2 separate regions of the Homo sapiens genome follow, and region 1 is linked to region 2. A link means that fine-mapping ties the variant in region 2 to the expression of a gene that starts in the linked region. Tissue or cell type: lung. Region 2 holds a variant in brackets; the other region holds the start of a gene. All regions are shown on one strand. Distances are between the middles of the regions.

Region 1 (7,044 bases), 85 kb before region 2:
AAAAAACTCTCTATTGACTTTGAGACACAATCCAGTTGGGAAAATGTAATCTGAAGCCTGACCTCACCAAAACCTAATAAAACAAAAGCCAGAAAACAGGTTCAGAACCCATCAGGTTATGGCGGCTCCTTTAAGATTTAACTTGTACCAGTAAATTAGCCTTAACTATTTCTTACATTATTAATTTTAATATCCCGACAGCATTGGTTTAAGGCATTGCATGTTTTTTGAAATTTGAGCTACTCCTACAAGCCCTCCTTGGTGACTTGATGTACTGAGAACTTGTCCACTTGCTTAGCAGTGGTTGTTGAACCTTGTATGTGGTGTGTACTTAAGTATGTGACTTCATTCATTGAGCGGGACATGAGATATTCTGAAGTTTCCTGTGGTTAGCTCTTTATTTCAAATGGAAATGGATAATATTACTGTTTACTTTTCCTATTATGGTGCTCTTTTATTTTTAAGTTACTTCAAGACGGTTCTGAGATACAAAAATGAGTAAGATATGGTTTCACTAATACAACCACGATTAACTAGGTGAATAGCAATTATATTTTATTGAATGAAACACAGCTTAATTAGGTTAGGCCAAGGAGGGCTATTTCCTCACCAATGAGCACACCTTGAGGGAAGGACAAAGTATTAAAGATAACTAGAATTTGAGATTCTAACACCCCCTGAAGCTCTCCATCTCTCTTCTCCACATGTCAACTCTAATCCTTAGATAGACTTTTTTCACAGTGACTGGAATGTGGTTTCCATCAACCTTCAGGGTCACATTTATCTTCTGAGGAATGGAAACCCAGTTTTTTTGAACCTGGGATCCTAGGGCTGACTGGTCAAACTTGGGTCAAGGGCCATCCCCAAAGAACTGTGGCTAGGGAGATGGGACCCTGGCAAAACAGCATTTGTCTTTGGATTGTAGAGATAGAATAAATGTTTCCTAGGAGGGGGAAGGGAATGTAATTTCAGGAATTCAAAAAAAAAAGCAGATGGATATCCAGTACAGACATTGCTTTCTGGTTCCAATTGCTGTTGGAGGTGGAGGGTTTCTCCTCATGAGACTTGGCTCCCCAGTCTTGCAGAGTTGAACTTAGGACTTTTTCAGACCCACCTCTCATGTCACCCTCTCATTAAGGCTTTATTGACTCTACGACCCCCAACCATCCACACACTGTTGGCTTCACCTTCCACTGTGATACTGTAACATGAAGTAATAAGCCATGATTACAGTGTGCTGCCAACTGTTGTGTTTTCCAGAAGACTATCAGAAAAACCTGTTGATCCAACTTACTGCAGTAAAGGTAAACACAACATTGACAGTCTTAGTAGTGTCTCAGAAAGGAACCCAGGGAGGATATTTATAGGGTTTAGGTCCTAGACTGGGTGAATTTCAGGTGGGTTTTGCAAGACGGAAAACTCTTTGGGTTTGGCAGAGTTCGTGACATGATAGCTTTAAATTGTTGGACACGGGGAGATGAAGGAGTTGAAACAAGTCTTCTAGAGCAAGCTGGTTGATATAGATAAGTAAGCCACTTTGATTAGTCACAGCCTTGTCCATTAGGAGCAAGTATTTCTTAAAGCAAGTAGCTAAGTCATTTTTGCTTATTTTCGGCATGGCTTAAACATAGAGAAAGTAAAGTATACTATATTCCAATATTATTTAGTACACAGAGAGGAAAGTATTTGGCTTCAGTTATCGATAATGCATTTTAATTGTTAACTTTTTATCTGTTGGTATATAGGCATGACCAAAGGACATTGAGTCACATGTAAGAAAAATGCTATTTTATCTTTTAATAGTTCTGATTGCATCAATGAGAAAGTTAATCATATTCCATTTAAATCATCTCACATCCAAAATCATCTTGCCTATTTCTGATAGTACGGTTTTCACATTTGCAGACATACCATCAATATTTCCCAGTGGGAATCAACGAGTGCAGGGTAGAGCAGAATTTGCTATCTTTTACTCTGATGTTATCTTCTTATTTAAAACAGCTGCAGAAATACAGATTATGAAGGTTGGGTTAATAAAAGGCAAATATAACTAATGATGAAGCCTGAAAAAAAATTTAATGTCTTTTCCACACTTTTGAAATTCTGGATTACTTTTCTTTTATTCAATATCTTTTTATTTTCTAGAGAAAATGGAAAGTGAAACCCAAGTCAGATAAAGTAAGTTCAATTGTGTTCTATTCTGTTAGAAAATTGAAAAGTTGGCACTTTTAGTGCCTGAATTCCTTCAGATATTAAACTCCAAACTTCTACTTTCTGAAGTAAATTAAGTTAATATATCCTTAATAGAATAAATGCAATTCTAAATAGTGAATAAATTTCACATTATGATTTATTTTGGGAAAACCTTGTTTCAATTTTATAAGCAGAAGAAAGGAAAGGAAATGTTAAAATCTGTGGAAAAGTTGTAGATTCCTGGAGCCACTTTTATTTCATGATTGTGAAAGTTAAATCACAAATATATTGCAAGTAAAAAAATTTCTACAATAATACTTTCTAGAGAAGTTTCTAAACAACAAAAGAACCCCCAAAACACAAACCCACAACTTCCTTTTGGCTTCAGTACTATTTGGATATTACCCTAATTGTGAAGGCAAAACCCCACCCTTCTCCTGAAGTATAAAGTAGGCCTTCTTTCTCCCTTGGGGCATTACTCTTGGTTGGGGAAGAACATCTCAATTAATAAATCTTTACACACTGAGGGTATGTGGACATCATAGTAGCAAAATTTCGGCCTGGGCCAGGCATGAATGTGAAATAGATGTATATTTTGTCCCCCCAGACTCTAGCTTCTTGATATTCCAGCCCATAGATTCTCTCTGTGCTTCACTCTGGTGACCAATGGAACATTTTCCGTTAAAACCTGGACAAATCTGAGACTCACTGATACCGAAGGGCAAGTCTTGGCATTCAAATCCAGGATTTCAGGATGTTCTGTGCAGAACACCCCATAACCCTGACTATTCCAAGTGAATTCAAAATAGATAAAATACACTTTTTTTTTAGAAAAACCATTTTCAACTTACATCAGTTTTTTCTTATTAATGAAAAACAACAAAAAAAACAAACAGTTTTTGGTTTACACATATTTGTGTTCTCTTTGAAAAAAAAAAATTTAATAATAAAAGGAGAAAATCCTGAAAGTCCTCATTACACTTCCCTCTCTTCATTCTTCCAACCCACTCTTTCTAACACATATTTAGAAACTTTCTAGTTAACTTCAGAAGCAATCTCAGAATCGGGTTCTTGCTGAGCAAGGGTGAGCTCCCATGTCTTATGTTTCCTCTTGACATTTTAATAAACTTTCATCAGTGTAAGTAATTGTAACATATCTCTTCACAGACAGCCTGAAGAAGCTAGCAGGCTGAAGCAATGGATTGATTGAACTTAACCACTCAAGCTAGGAGTACATTTACTGGCAGGTGTTATACAGATATGTAATATAAAATCTCAACCTGAGTACACGTCCATGCAAACCAACAAAAAATAAGCCATGCATGTAAGAATAGTCTATGCTTTCCAAGTTCTTCACTATGATCCATGTACTAAAAATCACAACTTCATTGTGTTGCCTGCTCCATTTCCCCATCCTGCCCTTTCTAGAAGTTGCTGGATAAAACTCCTGCTGCCTCTAGCATCAGGGGTGCGTTACTTTTTCTCTTGTAGGGCTTCCCCCAGGACTTTGCTCCTCCTTGGGCATTTTCGTTGGGAGGCTGCCTCTGAGAAATTGGGGGACTTGGAGCCAAATGGCGATTCCTCTGTCTAAGTAGTAGAAGTGACCGCAGCTCGGCTGCTAGTAAAGATTGCCCTTGGTTTCTGAGAAATTCTGACTCCCTAAGTTCATTTGGCAGCCGGCGGCTTCTCTGAAACAAAGCCAGCAAACAGCTGGAGCGTCTCTGGACACTCACATTAAAACTTGTGAAGAGTTAAAAGCCCCAGGGAAGAGCCAGGCCAAGGGCACGGGTCAGCGCCGGCTTAAAAGACCCTCTCAGGGCACGAGGCGTTCGCTGCGGGAATCCACCTGCAGCTGTGCGGCGCGGACCAGGGCGTGCGGCGCGGACCAGGGCTTCCGGCGCGCGCTCTATCCAACTGCGCCGCGGGCGCCCGAGAGGCGCGCGTTTACTGCGCTCAGGAGCTCGGTGCAGCCTCTTCTGGAGAGTTGGGGGCGGTTTCCAGGGTCCGGAGTGTCCCCTGACCCCGGGAAAGCTGGGTAAGTATGCGGTGCGGGGACTTGGGGCCTGAGGCAGGCGGGGGAGGAAACCTCGAGTAGACAGGTGGATGTGAGAAGGATTCTCCTTTCTGGTGATTTGCACCTGTTGACGCCCCCAAATCTGAGCTCTAAGGAATTTTACAGATGGTTAAGACAGGTTCTGAAAGGTAGACTCAGAATTCGAAAGGACCTTAGAGCAGTGCTATCCGAAGTGTGATGCAAGGACTAATAGCATCGCCTTGCCCTTGAAACTTGTTAGAAATGCAAATTCCTGGACCCCACAAAACCCTGTTGAACCAGAATCTCTGGGAATGGGGATAAGGAATGTGTATTTTAACAATCCTCCACGGGATTCTGATGCAGCTAAAGTTTGAGAACCATTGCCTTAGAAGTCACTTAGTCCTACATTTGAGCCCCTAGCCCCAATGCAGGAACCCCCAAATAAACAGCAATGGGTGTGTAGGTAATGAGTCAAAGGCATTAGATACTGGGGTGTATTCAGTTATAAAAATAACTTCTAAACACTCTTGGTTTGTGGGAATTCTATTCTGTCCCAAACGAAACTGTGATCTTTGAGATTTCCTAAGAACAGCACTCAGAGCTTCAACAACTATTTCTGAGTTTGTACTGTGTGCAAGTCTCCAGGTAAGGTTCTTTCAAAGTGCTGGAGGGAATTTTGTACTCTCAGGATCCCCAAGCTGGTAGCGTGTTATTTCTCTTACCAGGATCTTCATAAGTTGATGTAGTGCTTCATACATCACATTTATTTTGTTTTTTGGTATTCAACTGCTTGTTCTGAAATTAATCATTGTTAACTCAGGGTGTCAGGTTAGGTATCTTGGAAGATATATATTTACTTTGTGAATTCTGAACAAAAATCCTTAAGAAAAAATTCACACTGCAAGATTTTTTTCCATTTTTTCTATTTAAGTTTACAGTGCTACAATTTACCAATAGAATAAGTAGGAATCCTGAGATTTCATATGAATTAAAGTAGAGAAGATAATTCCCAAGTTTTTAAATAACTCCTTCAGATGAGGCAGGCTCTTCATCACTGCTGAGAACCTGAGCCATTAATCTTTGATGACGAATGAATGGTTTTGTGTTGTTATTATTATTCTCCTTTCAGTGGCTTAACTTAAAATATGAAATCTAAATCCACTGCTGACTTACTTGGAGACTCTGGAGCAAATTTATTTGCAGATATTTCTCAGTTTTCCCTTTTCTTCAATGGGTGGGTGCAGGATGTAAGGTTTTGATAGGGAACCTGCTAGCATTATCTTAAAGTAGTTCCCCGGAGGACCCTGTGTGGTTATGATATTGAACTATTATTAATATGTTAAAGCATAGAAAACATTCAATACAATGATTTTATATTTAATTATTTTATATATATATATTAAGTTAAAACATCTAAAAGGCTTTTTCACAGATTTCAAAAACTAATCACCTCTCTGTTTGAAAAGAACTTTGGAAATGTCAGTAAAATTGGGAGCCATTGCTAGCAATGTTATGAGCCTGTGAAAATAAAGTTTGCCACTGTAAATATTTCCCATCTTGAATCATAGCTACATGCAGAAATTGTTCATAAGTATTCAATGAGCATATGCTTAGCATCCTTCTATAATGAAGTGTAAGGCTGACACATATGTCTTGTTTGCATTGTATTTCATGTTGTGATTTTCCTTCCTCAAGTTCAAATCATCTTCCAAAAAGGAAGAATTTTCAACCCCGGAGCATATACTCAGAATCCTCCAGCTCTGAGAGTGGAGGGCACAAATTCACTTGGAATGTGTACTTTTCTTGGTATTGCAGTTTGCTTTGATGATGCCCCTGTCAATCTTGTAGGATCTCAGATCCAGTACACACTGAGCAAGTGGAAAGTGCAAAGGAAGAGGAGTTGGGCACTGGGCAAAGTTGGGATCTAAGATAAAACGAGATGCATGCCTACTTTATGAGGAAGGGCTGACTGGTGGTGCATGTGGCAGTTGCAAACATTTTTGTTGCCCCATCAATCCCTGGTGCTTTATGATACTTCCCTAAATTCCTCTGGCCTATTCCCTAACATGCACACAACTCACTACCCACAACCATTGCCACTTGCCATTCTCCAAGGAACCATTCTTTTTTATTTTTAATTTTACTTTAAGTTCTGAGATACATGTGCTGAACATGCAGGTTTGTTACATAGGTATACATGTGCCATGGTGGTTTACTGCACCTATCAACCCATCATCTAGGTTTTAAGCCCCACATGCATTAGGCATTTGTCCTAATGCTCTCCCTTCCCTTTCCCCCAACTCCCTGACAGGCCCTGGTGTGTGATGTTCCCCTCCCTGTGTCCAGGTGTTCTCATTGTTCAACTCCCACTTATGAGTGACAACATGCGGTGTTTGGTTTTCTGTTCTTGTGTTAGTTTGCTGAGGATGATGGATTCCAGCTTTATCCATGTCCCTGCAAAGGACATAAACTCATTCTTTTTTATGGCTGCATAGTATTCCATGGTGTATATGTGCCACATTTTCTTTATCCAGTCTATCATTGATGGGCATTTGAGTTGGTTCCAAGTCTTTGCTATTTGTAAATAGTGCTTCAATAAACATGTGTGCATGTATCTTTATAGTAGAATGATTTATAATCCTTTGGATATGTACCCAGTAATGAGATCGCTGAGTCAATTGGTATTTCTGGTTCTAGATCCTTGAGGAATCGCCATACTGTCTTCCACAATGGTTGAACTAATTTATACTCCCACCAACAGTGTAAAAGTGTTCCTATTTCTCCACATCCTCTCCAGCATCTGTTGTTTCCTGACT
Region 2 (7,044 bases):
AATATATGATTGTTGGAATATTATTTGCTAAAGCAAAATGATTATACATTTAGACTGTTTACACTTATAGAATAATTAGGTTATAATATATCATCTTCTGAGAAAATATTAACCAAATATAGTTTTTATGAAGACAATCAAACTTTGAAAAATACAGGCATTAAATATTATAAAATGAAATTGAATCCTCATTATTTTTGCAGGTAGGTAAATACATACATAGAAACAAGTACTAGAAGCAAAAGTAGAAAAACAATGATTTACTGTGTTCAAGGAGGTGGAATTTTAGGAGATCTGTGTTTCTTCATTATGTTTCCATTGTGGTTTTTAAATAATCATAATCAGAAGAATGTAAAAGGGGAAAATCAGAAACTTTACTGAAGGAGACTAGATAAAAATGTTGTCATTGCAAGTATGTGGCAAGGAAAGAACAGCAAAAAAGCAAGTTTAGAATAACCGTCAGGCTAGCAGGGGAGAGGCTGAGTGTCACCAAGGATGAGTAAGCAGAGGAGGAATTGTGAAGGGAAATCAATTGGTTGGAGAAGATGATTAGTTTACATATTTTAGGGGTAGAGGAATCTTGTGTAGACCCTACATGAAACGATCGACCCCAGTGAAATGGGGCTTTAGTAAAGGTGAGGGAAGGAGACTCAGATGTTGAAGTCATTCAGTGCTGGTGGTCCTTCAAAACACATGGATGCATGAGGTTTCTCCAAATGTAAAATTAGAGAGTCAGAAACAGAATCTCAAGGAGTTTCTGTTTCTTGGCAAAAAGAGTGGGGCCAAGGTACAGAAAAATGGCATTACAGAGATGGGAGAGTCCTGCCAAATGTGGGCAGCTTGCAAGGAGGCAAGAGGAAGGAGGCAATGGAGAGGAGGTTCAAAGGGAGGAGATAGTGGGAAAGGCCCTTCAGCACACGAGGAGATGAGAACTAGGGACTGGGACCACAGGGAGAGAAAAAGGGAAGAACCATTGTAGGAGAAATGAATGTGGGATCAACTTTCCTCATGTTGCCAGTCTTCTCAGTGAAATCAAATTATGTCTTCCCAAAGAAGACCAAAGGTAGGTGGAAGGGGCTGGGGAGGTGAGGACCAGCATTGGAGGGTTTGGGATTTGAAGGGAGAAGTTTTCCAACATAGAATAAAAGGAATTAGCCCATAAATCAGGAGGTCAGAGAAGAGTAGGCAAGTTCTATAACCACACAGGGCACTGATTGGATAACACGGAACTCCAGGATGCAGACTGGAGATTAAGATGCAGGCAACAGGCCGTTAGAGCTGATCTAAATGGCCTCACTTAATAGCTGACATTTCCAAGGCTTCTCATCTAACATCATTTGCTCCTCAGTCCAGTAGCAGCTCTGTGACATACAGGGATGAGGGCCAGGCTGAGACTGTCTTTGGAAAATAAAAGAAGGTGTCTAGAAGGCTGGGGGAAATTAAGAGAGAAAGGGGGTGGTTGAGAATAAAACAGAAGGGCCCAAGTGATTAGCATTTTGGAGGGAGACACATAAGTAAAGATTTTTAGGAAAAATCAACTTTAAAGAAATTGTTCAAAAGAGTTTAAGTAATTTCCCCCTAAGTCACCCAGCTTTTCCAGACTCAAACCCAGCGGGGTTTCTGCTTCTACGACCTGTGCTTGTAGCCTTGCAGCTATGTTTGAAGTTAACACGTGGAAGTACTCAGTCAGGAAAAAGGGGTCTGTTTTGAGCCTACAGATGCAAAGGAGGCTGTGGGTTATGTGTGCTGTCTGATGGCAGTTAGCATCCCAGGGGCCATGGGGTTAAGACAAACAAGAGGTGTTCACAAGGGTGGATGGCAGAGGACCACTGTTGCACGACAGCAAGACAGAAGGCTGGTGCGTTGCCAGTATTAATAATATCTTTTATTATATTGGAGTGACTCATTTGCTTCCTAGGAATCGAGTGAAATGAACATGGAAATTGTCAGGCCTGTGGTTTCTTAAAGATGTATCAATACTTTCCCGGATTCCTCTCAGTTGAGGGAACCAGATGCTGTTTTGCTCAGGAGAAACGCTTGGGGTTTTTTCTTCCTCCCTCTGGATGTGGAGATCACTCAAACAGAGGAGCTGTTTTTTATCAAAGACAAAATTCACTTGGAAATCCCCCTATGGTTGTATGGGAAAATAAAGGCTCCCAAGATATTCATCAGGGAAGAAAATAAGACCCCGTATTTTAGCCTTGCATTGCTGAATGACTCTCAGAAGGCTATAAGATGAGGCAAAACAAATTGAATTTCAGCTATCTTGCTGTTTAATCAGAGGCTCATCTGTTTTTGCTTCTAAGACAAGTGATCAGTGTTTCAGTTTCAACCAAAATTCTGCTAAAGTCTGCTGGCTGTGGCTCACAAATGGAAAAGGTTAGGAAGGCTAACAAATTAATAAAATTCTGTTGACATCTTCCTCAATACTTTAACCTTGGCTTCCTGTCACTTAGGAATTAGCCTCATTTGCAGTTAGACTCAAATAACATTTTCAGCTTTGTTAAAATGTTGTTTTTTGAACTATTTTTAGTCTTGTTTCAAGAAGGTAACAAACTTTTCCCTCTCTCCTTTTCACAGCTTGCTGGAAAGGTGAGTATTCTTACCATGCTGTTCCCTGCTGAGATCATTACTGCTGCATTCCAACAAGACCAATCTGAAAGATGCCCTCAACTCCGTGGGAAACAGGACTTCTTCCTTCTATGCAGACAGTTCTTTCTTTTGATTATGACTGTAATTGTCAGTGTCATGATTGACCTGTTTATGAAATGGTGACTGAATCCCAGCCCCTAGCCTGGGACCCATCACAGTTTACAAGTCAGTTTCTCCCCAGTGCTGGCCCTGTGCTGCTGGGGGATTCAGTAAACATGGCTCTCTGACTAATCCACGTTCTGTTGCTCTGTCTGCTGCTGACGCCCTTGACACTGGCTTCTTGGGTGTGAGATGTGCCCTTTCCTCCCTCTGGCCCACACTCAAACCTGTCATCTCACTGAGTGCCCACTACTTGTAAACCTTTCCTGCCCATGGCTGTGGATGGTCTTCCCAGGGCCTAACCTGTAGTCGGGGCTGCATGGCACCTTAGAGCCCTTGGGTGGCAAGGCCATTGGAGCCAGTGGCTATGTCAATTTCAAAACCTCCTGGTCTCCTAGAGGCCTGCTGATGTAGACCCTCAGGGTCTTTAAGCTCGGTGCAAGTTTGGAGCCATTCACCTTAATTCTGCAAAAATAT[A/G]CCTTGCAAAGAGTAAGTGCTCAATACAACTTCATGGATTTGGATTAAATATATCTTTCATTTTTCTTATTCTATTGTTTATTATCAGCTTTCATATTTTAAAATTACTGAAATTTCTTCATGGTAAAATTCTTTGATTCAAAACACTTCTCTAAATGAATACTTCTCTATTTTTATTTCTAAGAACAGTGGTTGGGATATGGGATATTTTGAGTGTAATATGCTTTGGGAGTTAGCCAGATTGGGGATAGAGAACAGCCTGAGCAGATGGAAGTGCTTATTAAAAGAAAAATCATTTTTCTCTTCCTGTGTTCAGACTTTAACAAGGACATTGAAAAGTGAGGTTTGATACATAGGGTAGATTTTCTATGAAATTCTAAAGTTCAGTCATCATAAGACATGAGTATTGAGCTAGGAATGGCAGATAGTCCCATTTTTATAAGAGCTTATTGCAAACTTTTCTTGGTTCCCGTTGCTTCCTTCCTCTTGCCACCCTGGCCTTCACTGAAAGCCAGCTTTCCTGAAGCCCCTGAGATAGCCCCTTTTTGGAAACAGCCTCTTTATCCTCTGAATCCTCATTAAGAATAATCTTTACTCTGTACCTTATAGTATAATGATCCTTGCCAATACAAGTTCCTCGAAGGCAGTGCTGCACTTGATTCATCTTTGCATGCATTTCACAGTGAATGTTATGCTGCATTTCATGTGGTAGGTACTCAAATATTTGTTGCATAAGTGGATGGAAATCTTACATCTATCTTTATAATTAATAGATCATTTCAGAAGATTTTGGGGGAGAGCAGATTTTCAAGATCTCCAATAAGCTATAATTTATTTTTATTCATTTTTAAATTTTACACACAGTAAAATTTATTTCTCTTTGTATGTGTTCAGTTTTACCAAATGTGTAGATTCATGTAACCACTATCCCAGTCAGGACACAGAAGAGTTCCATCAGCTCAAGAACTCCCACCAATTTCATTTTACACAGCTGACTGATTGATAGTGGGCTGTGAAGTCTGAGCATTATATAGCCAAATATTCATGCTCTGCATTTATGTTAACAGCTTCAAGTTTGCAGGCCAGATTTCTTTCCTTTCTTTGCACATGGGTACCTTTAGTTCTAGAGCTGGATGAAGCACTTGCTTTGCCTCTGTATGAACCCACTTCATTGGAGTAAAGAGTTGGGGAAAGGATTTTGATCCAGTGAAATAACTTAATACTTCTGCTTTTCTTTTTTCTAGAAAAATGTCCAGCATATCCAACAGAGCTAGTATTTGCTCTGGACAATTCCTACGATGTCACAGAAGAGAGCTTTAATAAAACACGGGACATCATCACTTCCATTGTCAATGACCTTAACATCAGGGAAAATAACTGTCCTGTGGGAGCAAGAGTTGCCATGGTTTCCTATAACTCAGGCACCAGCTATCTCATCCGCTGGTCTGACTACAATAGGAAGAAGCAGCTCCTCCAGCAGCTTTCCCAAATAAAATATCAAGACACCACAGAGCCCCGAGATGTTGGTAATGCAATGAGGTTTGTGACCCGCAACGTGTTCAAGCGGACGTATGCAGGAGCCAACGTGAGGAGAGTTGCTGTGTTTTTTAGCAATGGTCAAACAGCCAGTAGGTCATCCATCATCACGGCCACCATGGAGTTTAGTGCCCTGGATATCAGTCCAACAGTCTTTGCTTTTGATGAGAGAGTTTTCCTTGAAGCTTTTGGGGTAAGAATTTCTCTTGGCAACTTCTTTAATTTTAAGATAGAGGTAGGTATTGTGATAGGGCAGGATGGGAGTGGTAGAGAGTCAAGAAATATATGTGGCCTCTTGAAAACTCCTTTACAGTTTTCACAGCTATATTGTTGTCAATGTCTGTGAAATCCAATCCTGAATAATAACAACAGTCAATGATAACAGCAACCACATTTGCTCAGCTCGTGCTGTATGCCAGGCACTGTCCCTAGAGCTTTCCATATGTATTCATACATTCTCACAGCCCTCGGAGGTCAATGCAGCTGTTGTCTCCATGTTAAAAATGAGGAAACTGGGGCTGGGCGCGGTGGCTCATGCCTGTAATCCCAGAACTTCGGGAGGCCAAGGCGGGCGAATCATGAGGTCAGGAGATCGAGACCATCCTGGCCAACATGGTGAAACTTCATCTCTACTAAAAATACAAAAATTAGCTGCATGGTGGCGCGTGCCTGTAATCCCAGCTACTCAGGAGGCTGAGACAGGAGGCTCACTTGAACCAGGGAGTTGGAGGTTGTGGTGAGCCGAAATGGCGCCACTACACTCCAGCCTGGCAACAGAGAAAGACTCTGTCAAAAAAAAAAAAAAAAGGAAACTGAGGCCCAGAGGATTTCTAGTGACTTAACTATATACCACTACTAAGTGGCTAAATTGAGATTCGAACTTAGGTCTATGTGATAGAAAGGACCATGAACATGCTGCCCTGCCAGCCCTCTACTGCTCTGGTGTTTCTCAAATTTGTTATCTGCTTGCTGTTGCTCACAGAACAGCTGGCCTTAACCAGTGATGGAAGAAGTTCAGGGGATCTTTGAACCCCTATGGTGGTGCAAAACATTTGATGTATATGAACATTTTTCCCAAAAGAGGTCCTGTCACTTTTGGATCCACAGATTCTCAAGGGATCAGTGCTCCCCTTCCCTTCCTCCTAAGAAACTTAAAAACCTCTTCATCTGTTCAACAACTTTTCAGTATATTCAGATTATCCATAAAATACATTCTTCTGGAGCTGTGTAAAGCCATCATGTCCTTCAAGAGATTATAAAGGTCTATTTTTATAAAAAATGTACAATTTCTACCATATAAAGAGAAAGAATCTCTCTATAACATGGAGAGAATCAATCTGTTCCTAACACATCCAAGCGTTTTTTGGAAATAGGAGCCACAGAGAGTTACAACAGATCCTGACAAAAAGGATTGCAGGAAGTCAAAGTCCTGTGGTTTTCAGTTTTTCTTTTTGAAATTTTTCTGCCTCCTTAATTTTTCTCTCTGGGGAAAATAAGTGACTTTCAGCTTTGAGAGTTGCATAAAATTCCAGAATACAAGAAATCTTAATAAGACATCAAATTTAATCCTTATCTTCAGATAGGACTGCACCAAAGCCCTCAGAATCCCCAATGAGAAAGAGTCTCCAGTCATTCTTGTTAACAAATCATTTTAAATTTGCATCATATCTACAGAGAAGGTGACCCAGGAAGCTATCTGGTTCTCATCACTCTGCTCTTGCCAGATAATAACCCCACACAGTCATTCTGACTGCATATCACGCCTTGAGCAGTGCTCCCTTTAGTCATTCTTTATTCTTCCCTGCCTTGCACTCTTCTCCACTCAGGACATCCTCCTCTCTGTCCCCCTCTCTCAATTCCCTCCTTCCAATCCTCTTCATCAAGTCCTCACTGCTTCAAATCTGAAGGCATAGAGCTGCTACCCTTGGTGTCTGAGAGTGTCTGTTTCCCCTCATACTTACCCACACTGGATTTTACCTATTGAGCTTTTTAAATGTTTGCCGATTGGGTAGGTAAATAAGAGTTTCTTGTTGTTTTGATTATATTCCTGTGTGAGGTTAAACATTTTTTCATATGTTTATTGCCCATTTTTATTTTTCTGTGAAACTCACCTCACATCCCTTGTATCCCTTGTTTTTGGCATTATTATTTCTTTTGGCAAGTCTGCTCTAAAATAGTTTGCCTTACCTTTTTTTTTATTTCTTCTAAAAAAAAAAACAAAAACAAAAAAAACAGGATACATGTGCAGAACATGCCGGTTTGTTACATAGGTATACATGT

What was found. PIP is the estimated chance that this variant, and not a neighbour inherited with it, causes the effect.
Region 1: it holds the start of COL6A5, and the variant in region 2 is fine-mapped to the expression of COL6A5 in lung (TOPMed, PIP above 0.99).

What each region holds. Positions count from the first base shown.
Region 1 is chr3:130,341,754-130,348,797 of GRCh38, forward strand. COL6A5 (collagen type VI alpha 5 chain) reads left to right here and starts at 3,919. Exons shown (of 41, transcript NM_001278298.2): 1 at 3,919-4,228.
Region 2 is chr3:130,426,993-130,434,036 of GRCh38, forward strand. It overlaps COL6A5 (collagen type VI alpha 5 chain), which reads left to right. Exons shown (of 41, transcript NM_001278298.2): 32 at 2,581-2,592; 33 at 4,473-4,957. Among named protein-coding and RNA genes, the nearest start is that of COL6A5, 85 kb to the left of the region's middle. The variant A/G (reference allele first, on the strand shown) is at 3,229.